Homo sapiens: one gene and its partner. The protein of the gene in region 1 purifies or fractionates together with the protein of each later gene. This does not show direct contact. Each region holds a gene or a part of one and is shown on either strand. Other genes may lie near its edges.

Region 1 (7,027 bases):
AGAAGGAGAAAGAGACGGAGAGAGGGAAGGGGGAAAAAGGGGAGAGACGGAAGGGAAAGAGAAGGGAGGGAGAAAGAAGGTAGAAGAGAAGGAGAGAGGGAAGGGGAAAAGAGGGAGAGAGGGAGTGAGGAGAGGGACAGAGAGAAGGGAAGGAGGGAAGGGAGAATTGGAGTGGGGAGGGGAGAAGAAGAGGGGGAGAGGGAGAAAGAAGGGGGAGAGAGGGAGAGAGGGACGGGGAGGGGGAAGGGGCTGGGAAAGAGGGAAGGGGGAGACGGGAAGAGACAGTGAAGGGGAAAGAGAGAGGGAAGGGGGAAAAAGGGAGAGAGGGAAGGGAAAGAGAGAGAGGGAAGGGGAAAAAGGGAGAGAGGGAAGGGAAAGAGAGGGCAGGGAGAGAGAAAGGAGAAGAGAAGGAGAGAGGGTAGGGGAAAAGGAGGGAGGGGGCGAGAGGGACAGAGAGAAGGGGAGGGGGAAGGAAGAGAGGGAGAATTGGAGTGGGAAGCAGAGAAGGAGAAGGGTAGAGGGAGAAAGAATGGGGAGAGAGGGAGAGAGGTAAGAGGGGGGAAGGGGGTGGGAGAGCAGAGAGAATGAGGGGGAAGGGGTGGGAGAGGAGAGAGAATGAGGGGGGAAGGGGGGAGGAAGAGAAGGAGCAGGAGAGACATGGGGGAGAGAGGGCACAGAAGGGAGAGAGGGAAGGAGAGGAAAAGGAGAGACGGAGGGAGAGGGAAGGGAGAGGGAGGGAAAGGAAGAGAGGGAGAGAGGAGTAGAGAAGAGGCAGGGAGAGGAGAGAAGGAGAGTGGAGAAGGGAAGGAAAAGGAGAGAAGAGAGGAAGCGAGGAGAGAAGGAAGTAGGGGAATGGGGAGTGTGGAGGGGACGGAGGGTGACTTGGGAAGAGACAGGAGAGAGGGTGGTGAGGTGGGGAAGGAGAGGGAGAAAGGAGGAGATGAGGAAAAGGAAAATAGCGGGAGGAGGGGAGAGGGGAAGGGGGTCCGGGCGAGGGAGACCTAGTTGAGCGAGAGGCGGCGCCCCTGCGAGCCAGCAAGAGAATCTGGGGCCAGGAGCGCGGGGCGGGACGGCAGGCGGGATGGTGGCCGGAACAAAGGCGCGAAAATTCGTCCCGGAGCACTTCACCTTCACTCACGCCGGCCGCCCCACCCCTGGCGCCCGCCCGCCTCACCCCTGGCGCCCCCCCGCCTGCCCGCCCGCCCACCCACCTCCGGGCGCGCGTCCGCACGGGTCAACCCGCGAAAAAGACCCGGCGGCTCCCGGCCCCGCCTCCAGAGCGCAGCATCCGCGCGGCAGGGACAGCGCCGGGACAGCGCCGGGACAGCCCCGGGACAGCCCCGGGGAAAGCGCGGGGACGGCGTGGGGTATGCCAGGGACAGCGTGGGGTATGCCAGGGACAGCGTGGGGGCGGTGCGGTCTGGGCCTGGACAGGGGTGGCCACGCCCCTGGTCGCTCCCCTGTCCCCAGGTCACCCTGACGGCCCTGCCCGGAGCCGCGAAGGCTATGCTCGCGTGGGAGCGGGTGGTCGGGCGGGCCTGGCGCGGGACTGAGCGTTCGCTCCTTGCCCGCAGGTGGAGCTCTTGCCCGACAGAGACCCGGACAGCGACGGGACCAAGATCAGCGTGAGTGCGGGGCGCGCCAAGGGCCGCGGGCCCAGGCTCGGGACGCACAGCCCTTCCCTGTCCCCGAGAAGGCGGCTTGCCAGCGCTGCAGGACAGCCGGACAGCCGGGTGCCCCTTGCTTGCCTCATTAGATACATACAAATGGAAGCACATTTAGAGTCCCTAAATAAAATTACATATTTTAGTCACGTAAATGTCTAAACATTCTAGAGAATCGTTTGCTATCCAGAGAGGTTGTGTGACACTTTCTTTCCTTGCTTTTTGTAACTTACCTAACAGTAAGAGTAAATACATTGCTAATATCTATTCAAAATTATGGAAACAATTATATTTTAGTAGAAAGTAAAACAGTAACATAGGAAAATATTTTTAGGGAGAAAAATATAAAGCATCCAACAGGATACTGAAATTGTGATGAAATTAAGCAACTAAATTTTGAATGTCACTTTAATGCATGGAATGTATTTCCAGTGCTGTTATTAAGAATATATAAATATAATGCCAAAAGCCAATATAAATGTAAAACCATTATTATAGGAGCTTGACCTATTGAAAATGTAAACTTATAGTTCCACTCTCTTGCTTATTACTTTTAATAAGTGTGTGTAAAATTTAAAAAGTGAAAGTCTTATTTTTTTACTATACCTCAAATGAGCCGCATAGCATCAGTTAATATTAATAATACTGCTTCATTTTTTAAATAGAAACGAAATAGGTATGTAATACAAAAGGAGGAAATCTGTTAAGCATAAACATATTGTTATTATTTGTTTTTAGAAATCTAAAATCCCAATGACCTACATTTTAAAAGAAAATGTATTTTAAGGCTCTTACAATAGCGTAAAGTGGTAGAAGATTGGAGTTACATCATAACTAAAAATGTACAAATATATTGTACACAGAATCTAGTTCTGTGATCTAAATGTGTAATCTCAACATGGAAGAAAAAATGACAAAGATGAAATATCAACCATAAACTCTGATTTAAAACTCATAAAATTACTGACTTTTTAGAATACTTCAATTATTCTTATATCACAGAAACTGTTGTTTTCCTACAATATTAGAAAAGCTTTATTGGTAAAATCTAGTTTTTTCTTAATTATTTTATTTTTCACATACATATATAACTAGATAGATTGCTTGGTGACTATTCTTCCTTCACCCTTCACCCGTCCCCCTATCATCTAAAGGCCAGTAACAAAAATAGTCTTCATACATCCTGACCCCTGATGCATACATTGAGAAACATGATTACACACACAACTGTTGATAGTATTACCTATGCCAATAATGCATAAAAGTTAATGAGTAGAAGAGAGTTTTAGACACAAACTGAGGCAGAAAGTAGTTTGTTCCCTGTTTACCCACTGTGTGACCTTGAACATATTTTCTCAACCACTAGTTATTAACTTTGAATTCCCAGGAGAGTTGTTATAAAATACTGATGATATAAGCTCCACCTTCCAGAGATGCAGACTTAATATTTCTGCATTACTCCACATGCCAGTATTTTTAATAGCACCCCAGGTGATTCTAATGTACACTCAGTGTTGAAAATCACTGACCCAAACACCCCAAGCCTCAGTTTACTCAACTATAAAATGGGATAATAATATAAATACTCTAGCTACCTCAAACTTTGTTAGGAGATTTAACCCAGAATAAATGTGGAAGTATTCACTTCATTTTTATAGTATTAGTATATTTATATGTAATTTTATATACACATAAACCCATAGGGTTCAAATGTTGGAAATTATTTGTATATATACCTCTATATGTAAAAGCAGATGAGTGCTTCTCAGGTTTTCCTAGTAATTTATGGCCGTTTGAAAGTGTAGTGGCCATTAGCAGAAAAAATAACTTTCGGCCTCCTTCATTTCTTTTCTGTATCTTTCAAAATGAACCAAATTCTTGAATCCCAAATGTCTTATGAACCCTATCATTGTCTCAGTTATGAAGAACATATGATTATGTATTAAACCTAACTGTTCTGATAAAGATGCTTATATATATAATATAGGATATATAATATAAAATCATATATCTAATATATATATCAGATATATGATCTTGCTATTAATCTGGAATAAAACTTATTAGAAGAAATAAATAAGCCAATTTCAATTTTGAAAATCAAGCCAGTGTTTTATCGATGGCATCCCAAGTCCCTGTAGTATAAAGTCCCTATAATGGCATGGGATACATACTTTGAGCAACAAGACTTCAGGTGATATGAAGCTGTACCCCAAGCCATGCCACCCTATGACTAGAGGCAAGACTGCATCTAAAATTTAAGAAGAAAAATATTAATATCCAAGTTCATTAATAGCACCTTTAGTAGTCATCCCAGTGTGGGGATACAAGTGCATTCTCACTCAAACTCATGACCAACAAAATATTTTTGTGATGTCTCAGAGTTGAGGGGCTTAGTTTATAGCCCACAGGGAAGAAAAGAGGTTGTTTCACCTATAGAGTTGGCCTTATTGGTTTGTGCTTCATTGAACTGAGTTAAGCAGGCAGAGGCCAATCCCATGATGGAAAAATGACGGAGCTGCTACTGGCATGTAGACAATGGGGGGCACGTGGCTGACAGAATCTGGCACTGGCTGCATTGAACTAATTATCTCCTGAGTCTGCAAGTGCAGTGGTTGGTGGAATAGGATAGCCAAGGCCTTCAGATGTGACGTTAAGGAAATAAAAAGCTCCTTCACTATGGCTATGGGGCCATTAAGACCCTTTAACTTTCCAATATTAGCAAGCTCAGGGTAAAAAATGGAACAAAATCATTTGATGTAGCACTTTATTGTTTTTTTTACCTGCAATTTTTCAGACAGTGAAAGTCCAAGGCAATGACATCTCCCACAAGCTTCAGATTTCCAAAGTGAGGAAAAAGGATGAAGGCTTATATGAGTGCAGGGTGACTGATGCCAACTACGGGGAGCTTCAGGAACACAAGGCCCAGGCCTATCTGAAAGTCAATGCCAACAGCCATGCCCGCAGAATGCAGGCCTTCGAAGCCTCGCCCATGTGGCTGCAGGATATGAAGCCCCGCAAGAACGTCTCCGCAGCCATCCCCAGCAGCATCCATGGCTCTGCCAACCAACGAACGCACTCCACCTCCAGCCCTCAAGTGGTAGCCAAAATCCCCAAACAAAGTCCACAATCAGGTATGGAAACCCATTTCGAGCCTTTTATTTTACCACTCACAAACGCTCCACAGAAAGGTCAGTCGTATAGAGTAGACAGATTTATGAATGGTGATTTTTAAAATCGGAGACCTAGTTCAGTGCAAGTGATTATGAGAGGTGAGCACCGAGCCTGCACCAATTCACTCAGAGCTCAAAGCATGTGGGTGCACCCCGTCAGTCCCCTAGTGGTGCTTCATTTCCAGGGCATCTGAGAGCTGGACTCTGGTTTTTATCCTTTCTGTATTTACACATTATAAGAACAATAAATCATGTAATGTTGGTTACATTACAAATGCATGTTCATTTTCTCTACAGATTTATGTATCGATAATGACCCAAATTAAGAGGCTTTCACTTAATCAAAATGTAAATGAGAGAGACATGCCATATCATGCATTTTCAGCGACCCATAGCTCTAAGCAGGACTATTCTCCAAGGGCTTTTGATTTTGAAGGAGAAACCTCAGCTGCCTGTGATGATGATAATGGAAGGATGGAGGGGGGATTGAAGACTGTAAGTGGTGCAGAGATAAGGCAACTCCTCTGTGAATTTGCCTTCCAGGCCAATTTAGAAGCTTAGTCACAGGATTCTGAAGGCAGCTGTGCAAGTTAAAGCTGTTCTGAATGGCATTAATGTATGCAGTCATTCAGCCAATGGAAATGCGTGGAAGTTTTAACCTTGATGTGGGATAAAGGCTTCGTGGAATGAGCAGTACCCTGCACAACCCCGCGGCCGTCCCGATTTCCTCAAACACGTGACATGGGATGAAGGGAGCACAAACATACTGACTTTATCCTTCTTTAGGTTTTTCCCTAAAGAAGTATTGATGCTACCATCAGTAATGGAAAATTACATTGCTAATATTTAAGGTCTCTTCAGCCATTAAATTAAAAAGTCTGATTACTTCACCAGGATGATTTCTGAGATCTCATCTCATATCGTCCTGAATACACACACACACACACACACACGCACACACACACACATCTCAGAAATCATCCTAATCAAATATAGACTTTATATATATCAAATATATATATACATGTAGAAATACATATAGGTATGTATCTTTAAGTCCTTGCTTGTGAACAATGCTTTTAAATGTTTTTAAAATACTGTATGCCAAAATAGGTTTTCTCTTAATGCTTTACTTCCTAATGGATGTGATTTGCAGATTTGTAGGGCACTTGGATTAGGGTTCTCTGAGTTTGCCCTGCCTTATAATGTAGATGAGCAACTCTCCTGGCATGCCTTGGTCATTGCAATTTATGTCAGTCTGATGAACAGATGGCTTAGCCTCTCTGAAGCCCAATGTGTGTGGATTTGTCTAATTTTTTTCTTTATAATCTTTTCTGCTTACCAAATTAAAGGACAAACTAGTATAGCTGGAACATATATGTGTGTATCCATACACACTAAACACACAGGTATATGCTAAATTGTAATGGTAACCAAATGATGGTTACAACTTTGTGACTATTATTTGAGGAAGATTTAATGTCTTTGGAGTGATTTTCCCCTCTTTCTTCACATTATCATAAAAGAAGTTAGACACTACAGGCAAGATTACAGAGTAGCCTAAGCAGACAATTTACAACCTAATTAGCAAGAACTCCAAATCATGGAAGTGAAATTATTATTATCCTACATAGACTGTTCCAAGTTAGATGTCATCAATCTGTTCGGCAGAATAAAATCAAACAGATTACCTATTCCAAGTGAAGAATTCCAAGGGTAGAATGAAATGCTTTATCTATTTCTAGAATGTTTTCTTAGCTTTTGGGGTTTAATAATGCAATCTCAAAATATCTATTTATTTTATTTTAATATCTCTTAGCGCTGTGATTAGTGCTAAATGATAAACTCTAGATCTCTTCTAACAATTATCAAATAAAAATTACTGCTCTTTTTGCATCCCATTGCCAGCCTTGCTGTCAGATTCAAAATTGCTTTTTCTAGAGTTAAAGGTAGAAGGAGAGAAAAAAGTGACTCATGAAGTCTATATTCATTAAAAGTCCTGTTCACTAAACATATCTGCTTATATCAAAGAGTAACTTGAAATATCTGAAAATATTTAATTTCAATATTTCCAACCAGTGAATACTGGATAATATTTTTATATACTTCTATCAACATTTTCTAATTTCGATTTCAGAAGCTGGGGCAGTCCAGTCACTCACTTTACTTATGTGTAAGTTCCTATACTTG
Region 2 (7,027 bases), on another chromosome or scaffold:
ACTTAATGAAGAGCAGAAAGAATTTCAAAAAGTGGCCTTTGACTTTGCTGCCCGAGAGATGGCTCCAAATATGGCAGAGTGGGACCAGAAGGTAGGCGTTTTTCTTGTGCTTAGACGTTCTAACAACAGATGTCTCAGGCAGACCTTTATCTTTGTCTCCTGATAATGTAATTGTTAAATGTCTCCTCCACTTACCAACTCTTACTGCAAGTGAGAATACCGGTAGTGGATGATTTTTCCTAGAAGGCATCCTGATCATCTTGTACATAACTTTTTTTTTGTTAGTTGAATAAAGATTTGGATATAAAACTAAGGCAGTTCTATAGATAATAAAAAGAAACTTCTTAATGCCAGAACAAGTTTTTACAGGACCCATGTTAACTGATAACCACTGTAAGATGACAAACAGGCATATTAAGAGAATTCATACGCTGTCGCATGTGCAAGCCTCCTAATCCCTCACTGTGCCCTCTAAAAGGAAGGCCGTCTCTGAATCAGCTGCTGATCACCCTGCTCTCTTTTGTACATAGGAGCTGTTCCCAGTGGATGTGATGCGGAAGGCAGCCCAGCTAGGCTTCGGAGGGGTCTACATACAAACAGATGTGGGCGGGTCTGGGCTGTCACGTCTTGATACCTCTGTCATTTTTGAAGCCTTGGCTACAGGCTGCACCAGCACCACAGCCTATATAAGCATCCACAAGTGAGTGCCCAAGCTTGGAAGGCACAATGAAGTGCTCACTCGGGCTGACTGTGAGAGTTCAGATTCGTAGGAAAAAGATTGATCTTTTGAAGCTGAGTGTCCTCAAGGAACTGGACTTAAAAGTACACTCTAGGGGCCGGGCGCAGTGGCTCGTGCCTGTAATCCCAGCACTTTGGGAGGCCAAGGCAGGCAGATCACGAGGTCAGGAGTTTGAGACCAGCCTGGCCAACGTGGTGAAACCCCGTCCCTGCTAAAAATACAAAAAATTAGCCGGGTGTGGTGGCTGGCGCCTGTAGTCCCAGCTACTCGGGAGGCTGAGGCAGGAGGATGGTGTGAACCCGGGAGGCGGAGCTTGCAGTGAGCCGAGATGGACCACTGCACTCCAGCCTGGGCGACAGAGCGAGACTCCATCTCAAAAAAAATAAATAAATAAAATAAGTACACGCTAGGTCTGTTGCTGCCTGTTGGACTTGATTCTGTCATCCTGTGTATTGCTTAGGGAATCAGGTCAGCCAGCTTTCTCAGAAATCTTATTTTGAGCTGGTACCAGGAGACTTCTCCAATAGAGTGATCAGGGTCCTCTCACCCTTTTATTTATTTATTTATTTTTAAGACAGAGTCTCGCTCTGTTGCCCAGGCTAGGGTGCAGTGGCATGACCTCGGCTCACTGCAACCTCCGTCTCCCCGGTTCAAGTGATTCTCCTGCCTCAGCCTCCTGAGTAGCTGGGATTACAGGCACGTGCCACCACACCTGGCTAATTTTTTTTCATATTTAGTAGAGATGGGGTTTCACCATGTTAGTCAGGCTGGTCTCAAACTCCTGACCTTGTGTTCTGCCTGCCTCGGCCTCCCATAGTGCTGGGATTACAGATGTGAGCCACCGCACCCGGCCCCTCTCACCCTTTTCCTCAATCCAAAGATGGAACTGCCAGTGATTTGAGGAAGTAATAGAAACTACTAATAGAAAGCACATATAACTCTGATTTTTAGAGGCTCGTGTAACCTAACTAGAAGTAGTACAAACGTGCTGGTGAGAAGTACCTCAGCCTGGTTATCTCTGGGTAGTCCTTATTCCAGGAATATGTTTTAATCCACCGTTTGCCTTTAAAGAGTCTTCCCAATTGTGACTCTCCCCTTCCCACTCTTCTGCTTTACTCCACTGCCCTGCCCTTTGTTCTCTTTCCCCTTCTCCCCCATTTTTTTTTCTTTTCCATCTTTATTTCTGTCATTGTCTTTTCTTCTTGGTGTACCTATCAGCATGTGTGCCTGGATGATTGATAGCTTCGGAAATGAGGAACAGAGGCACAAATTTTGCCCACCGCTCTGTACCATGGAGAAGTTTGCTTCCTACTGCCTCACTGAACCAGGTGAATTTGCCACACTGCACTGAGATATAGCAGGGAGAGATGCTTCCTGCTCAGATGGCATTACCGAGCACTCCTTCCAGCCTCTTGACATGTCGAGCCACTGTTTATCTAGCTGTTTGGTTGAGGAGTAATAGAGTCCTGTGACCTGATGTCACAAGGACCAAGAAGCCTATCTGGTGTGTTGGGAGGTAGGCAGTGGCCTGACTGGTATGAGCAGTTTCCACCAAGTACAGAGAGTTCCTTTGGCCACTTGGGTTTTGCAGTGACACACTCTGAGCAGGGTCTGTTTAGAGAAGATTTCCTAGAAGATAGAATTGTGCTGGGCTCCCTCGACCTCACTGACTTTCTCACCTTCTCTCTGCTGCCTTTTGATCCCTCCTCAGGAAGTGGGAGTGATGCTGCCTCTCTTCTGACCTCCGCTAAGAAACAGGGAGATCATTACATCCTCAATGGCTCCAAGGTACTAGCGTGCGTCCTCCCAGAGCACTTTGGAGATTGTTCCCAGCTTCCTCCTGACATCCTCTGGTTCCTTCACATCCGCGGGTTAATACTCCCATAGGATTTTTATGTGTTGGGAAGAGAACCTCTGACCCATTTCTCTTTCTTTATTCTCACTGTTTGTATCTCTCCTAATCTGATTCCAGATCATTTCGTTGACTTTTGTCTATCCTTTTTATACTCTCTTGGACTGCCTCTCTGATCTGCAGTCACTGCAGCGACCTTTTACCTCACCTCAGTCTCTGTGCCATTGGACCTTATTGTCAGTCTCTGTGCCATTGGACCTTATTGTCAGTCTCTGTGCCATTGGACCTTATTGTCAGTCTCTGTGCCATTGGACCTTATTGTCAGTCTCTGTGCCATTGGACCTTATTGTCAGTCTCTGTGCCATTGGACCTTATTGTCAGGAGGACCCAGTGGTGTTCCCAGACGCTGTGAGAACTCAAGCATTCCCTGGTCCTTTTGCACCCCTTTTACCCCCACAGGCCTTCATCAGTGGTGCTGGTGAGTCAGACATCTATGTGGTCATGTGCCGAACAGGAGGACCAGGCCCCAAGGGCATCTCATGCATAGTTGTTGAGAAGGGGACCCCTGGCCTCAGCTTTGGCAAGAAGGAGAAAAAGGTGAGTGGCTGTTGGACAGGAAACAATTCAGGTTATGAGACTCTGCCACCTGCCAGCCCAACTCCTGCTCTATTTCAGAAAACAGGTTTGCATACTTGCTAACCTACCTTTGAAGCAGTTGCTTCTATTAGGATTTTCAACAGGAGCATATGAAATACAACAGGGCATTATTAAACACTAGGCCTCTGGGGAAAGTGACAATGTTTGCCAGTAAATTCTTCAAGCCACCTGTGAGTGTTCTGACCTCTCCTGCCTCTGCTTTTGGCCTGTGTTCCTTATCCAGCTGCTTACGTTGGTGCACTTTGTTGCTCCAGGAAGAGACGCTTAGAGAAGACCTGGTGTTGGCCACAAGTCTCAGTAATGGAAGGCGTGTGGTCCCTTTTGCTTCTTTGATTAAAAATAAAGTAAAACTCATTGGAGATGATTGTGGGTATTTCAGCAACCCAAGAAGGACACTTAGGTACTGTAAGTAATTTGAAAAGTAAGATACTTCTAGGATTAAGAGCCGCCATGGCCAGGGCATGAACAGGAGACTTGTGATCATGTAACCGTAATTGGTAATAAGGGCTCAAGACCCATTCAGATTTTTTAGACCAGATGCTCAAAGCAGTCATCTCTCTCTAGTTTGTACTGTTATGGGGGGACTTTGTGAGAGAAGGCAGGTAATGAAATGACCCCTAAGTGTACCTCTTTCTCACAGCTCCTCGGGTTTCTGTATTTTCCTACAGGATCCTTCCTGATCCTCTGTAACTGTAAGGCATTATGCATTTTAGCATCCCCTTCTCTTTGGTAACACAGCAACCATTTCCTAGGCTTCTACTGTGTGTGAAGCCCATGCTAACTCCTGGGCAGGAAGACCTTCAGTAAAAGGCTTAGAAATGGAGTTTATCCTATCAACAAAAGAGAGCAAGGAAATGATGTAAAGGCAGTCTATTTTCAGAGCCAGAGAGGAACTGGGAGATTGTAGATAGTTTGTGGTTTTCAATTAGAGGCACTGAAATTGGGGGCAGTTGGTGTCACAATCCTAAAAGAAGTTGTGAGAAGTGTTTGTAGGTTAGTCAGGTAGAGTAGACATTAGTAGATTCTCTTAATAAGTTAGAAAATGTTTAGCTGAAACAGGTATCTTTCTGAGTGCTGACAGGCCTTTAAACCTGAACTTTTTCTTTTTCCTCATTTTAAGTTCTTGTGGGTCTAAGTCTTGGGTGCTGAAACCCATACCTCACAGGCTCCCGTCCCCAGGGAAGGCCGCCCTACCTGCTGGATTGTTGGGCAACCACGCAGTCCCTGATTTTTGCCAGGTGGGGTGGAACTCCCAGCCAACACGAGCTGTGATCTTCGAAGACTGTGCTGTCCCTGTGGCCAACAGAATTGGGAGCGAGGGGCAGGGCTTCCTCATTGCCGTGAGAGGACTGAACGGAGGGAGGATCAATATTGGTGAGATACGCAGGGGTGTGGCAGGGAGGTAGCGGTCCGGGACAGGCACTGCTGTTTTCCAGCTTGGTTGGAACGTCGGCGCTCTTCCCCTCTAGCTTCCTGCTCCCTGGGGGCTGCCCACGCCTCTGTCATCCTCACCCGAGACCACCTCAATGTCCGGAAGCAGTTTGGAGAGCCTCTGGCCAGTAACCAGGTAACCTCTGCCTTGCCTCCACATGGCTTTGCACTATTTGCAGCCCGGGACCTGCTCTAGGGCCCACATTTCCAGGAGAGAAGCCAGGAAATTCCTCTGTCAGTCCCACCACTGTCCTAGCCAGAGCTTGTGCTTTATTTCTGTCCATCTTTTCTTGGGATATCTTTAACGATATTAAAGTGTCGGGTGAGTGAAGTGGACTTAGCACTTAAAAGCAATAAATTTCCTCTATAGAAAAAGCAAGAGACTTTGAAGCTTTGGATCACTTAGAAAAGGCGCCTCCGAGATGTCTTACCGAGGCTCCTGCACCAGGTGCTGGTCTAAGCCCCTCAGTCTTGTCTGGTTCTCTGCTCCCTGTGCTGCAGTACTTGCAATTCACACTGGCTGATATGGCAACAAGGCTGGTGGCCGCGCGGCTGATGGTCCGCAATGCAGCAGTGGCTCTGCAGGAGGAGAGGAAGGATGCAGTGGCCTTGTGCTCCATGGCCAAGCTCTTTGCTACAGATGAATGCTTTGCCGTAAGTGATTCCTCTGGCTCTCCTGGGATGGACAGGGAACAGCTGCTAGGCCCAGGGGTCTTGAGAGACATGAGTCAGATTTGGAACCCAGCCCTCCTGGAATCCCACAAGGATCACCTTAAGCTTAAGGATATAAATGAACTCATGAGCGGCCTATGTGGGAGCTCTCATCGCTGGCTTTTAGGCCTGCTGCATGCCATTATACACTTCATTATGTCACTGTTGTTTGGTTGTGTTCTAGGCGAGAAACCACCTTTGGAAGGTTCACAGCAGCCCCAATTTAGCACTCTGCCATGTTTACATTGTCAGGCTGCATTGCCACTAGGGGGAACCATAGCTTTTTATCATCCCAGCCAGGGTGGCTGTGGGCAGCTTCTGCCTGGCAGGTAATAAGGGAGAGGGGCAGAGGGCTTTGAGTCGCCTGTCTGGGGGGAACTGACAAGTTTAGTAGGTGAACTTCCCTTGTCTCTAACCATACAGAATGTGGAGGCCCTCTTTGAGCTTGGCTGTTTGTGGTTCTTTCATGGGTTTATGGCGGGCTGCCAGATCGTGGGCTGGGGTAGGAAGGGAAGCTGCTTGCTCCACAGTCTTCCCAGAGTCCAAGACGTCTAGTCCCTGTCTCCCTGCAGATCTGCAACCAGGCCTTGCAGATGCACGGGGGCTACGGCTACCTGAAGGATTACGCTGTTCAGCAGTACGTGCGGGACTCCAGGGTCCACCAGATTCTAGAAGGTAAAAATTGCCAGAGGTTATTCTCTTCCCTTCAGAACGGGGGCGGGATCGCTGCTTTCCCCACTCTCTGTCCCCATGCCTCCTGGGCCTCAGGGTGCAGTCAAGCCCTGTCTGTCTCGAGGCTTCCTCCTCCCTCCCGTTCCGCAGAGCTGTTCTGGCAGGGGCCTGGAGTCCAGAGCCGCAGCTTCGTCCCTTTCGGGGGGCCTCAGATCGCTCTGCTGCTGCCCTTTTCCTCTGGAGATCTGCGAGAAGGGTGAACTGAGATAATGGATGAGAAAGCATGTTGAAAACCACAGCCGGGGCTTTTCTCTAAGGTTATCGAGTACGTGGTTCTCAGGGATCCAAGAACAGTGATGGACAAGGCAAATGTGAGCCAGTATGGTCATCAGTAGCTCTATATTGATTATCAGCCAGATGGCCTAAAAGATACCTGTCTCAATATTACTAGTGTATTTTTCAATAAAATAAACCATCACTATATGGGTATCTTCTTGGTAGTCACAGACATTCTATCGAGGAAACATGGAAGCCGTTGGGGTCGGGCTCGGAGCCTGGCTGTCTCCACTCTCTACAGCCAGTGCGGAAGTCTTGAAATGACACGACTCTTGGAAAAGCAGGAGGGGCAGAGGCTTCTTTGAGTGACTTCGGTGAAGCAACGTGAGGCTGCCTTGCTGGAAACATTATATAATGGGGCTTCCCTGCCCCTTTCACAGCACCCTTCTCAAACCTCAGCCTGTGCTGGAATCGCCTGGAGGGCATGGGAGCGCAGATTGCGGGCCTCAACCCCAGAGCTTCTGCTCCAGAGGGTCTAGTGTGGGCCTGGGAATTTGTATCTGCAACAAGTCTTCAAGTGAGGCTGCCACAGCTTGTCTGAGAACCACACTTTGAGACCCACCGCTCTGGTGTTAATGTCAGAGTCACAGGCTACCACAGGTTAGACCGCTGCTTTCTTCTGCAAACCT

The links.
Region 2: the proteins of VSTM2A (region 1) and ACAD8 purify together in Homo sapiens (affinity purification with mass spectrometry; 3 studies listed by BioGRID and IntAct, with this or other methods). This does not show direct contact.

What each region holds. Positions count from the first base shown.
Region 1 is NC_000007.14:54,545,373-54,552,399, forward strand, and holds part of VSTM2A (V-set and transmembrane domain-containing protein 2A isoform 2 precursor), read left to right. Parts: intron 1-788; exon of another isoform or gene 789-844; intron 845-1,574; coding exon 1,575-1,625; intron 1,626-4,461; coding exon 4,462-4,798; coding exon of another isoform or gene 4,799-4,899; exon of another isoform or gene 4,900-7,027. UniProt on the Homo sapiens protein: Plays a role in the regulation of the early stage of white and brown preadipocyte cell differentiation. Promotes adipogenic commitment of preadipocytes by increasing gene expression of the transcription factor PPARG in a BMP4-dependent signaling pathway.
Region 2 is NC_000011.10:134,256,558-134,263,584, forward strand, and holds part of ACAD8 (isobutyryl-CoA dehydrogenase, mitochondrial), read left to right. Parts: coding exon 1-91; intron 92-530; coding exon 531-700; intron 701-1,957; coding exon 1,958-2,067; intron 2,068-2,450; coding exon 2,451-2,527; intron 2,528-3,050; coding exon 3,051-3,188; intron 3,189-3,471; coding exon of another isoform or gene 3,472-3,516; exon of another isoform or gene 3,517-3,607; intron 3,608-4,486; coding exon 4,487-4,622; intron 4,623-4,717; coding exon 4,718-4,815; intron 4,816-5,180; coding exon 5,181-5,333; intron 5,334-5,574; exon of another isoform or gene 5,575-5,719; intron 5,720-5,962; coding exon 5,963-6,065; intron 6,066-6,212; coding exon of another isoform or gene 6,213-6,322; exon of another isoform or gene 6,323-6,543; intron 6,544-6,778; coding exon of another isoform or gene 6,779-6,939; exon of another isoform or gene 6,940-7,027.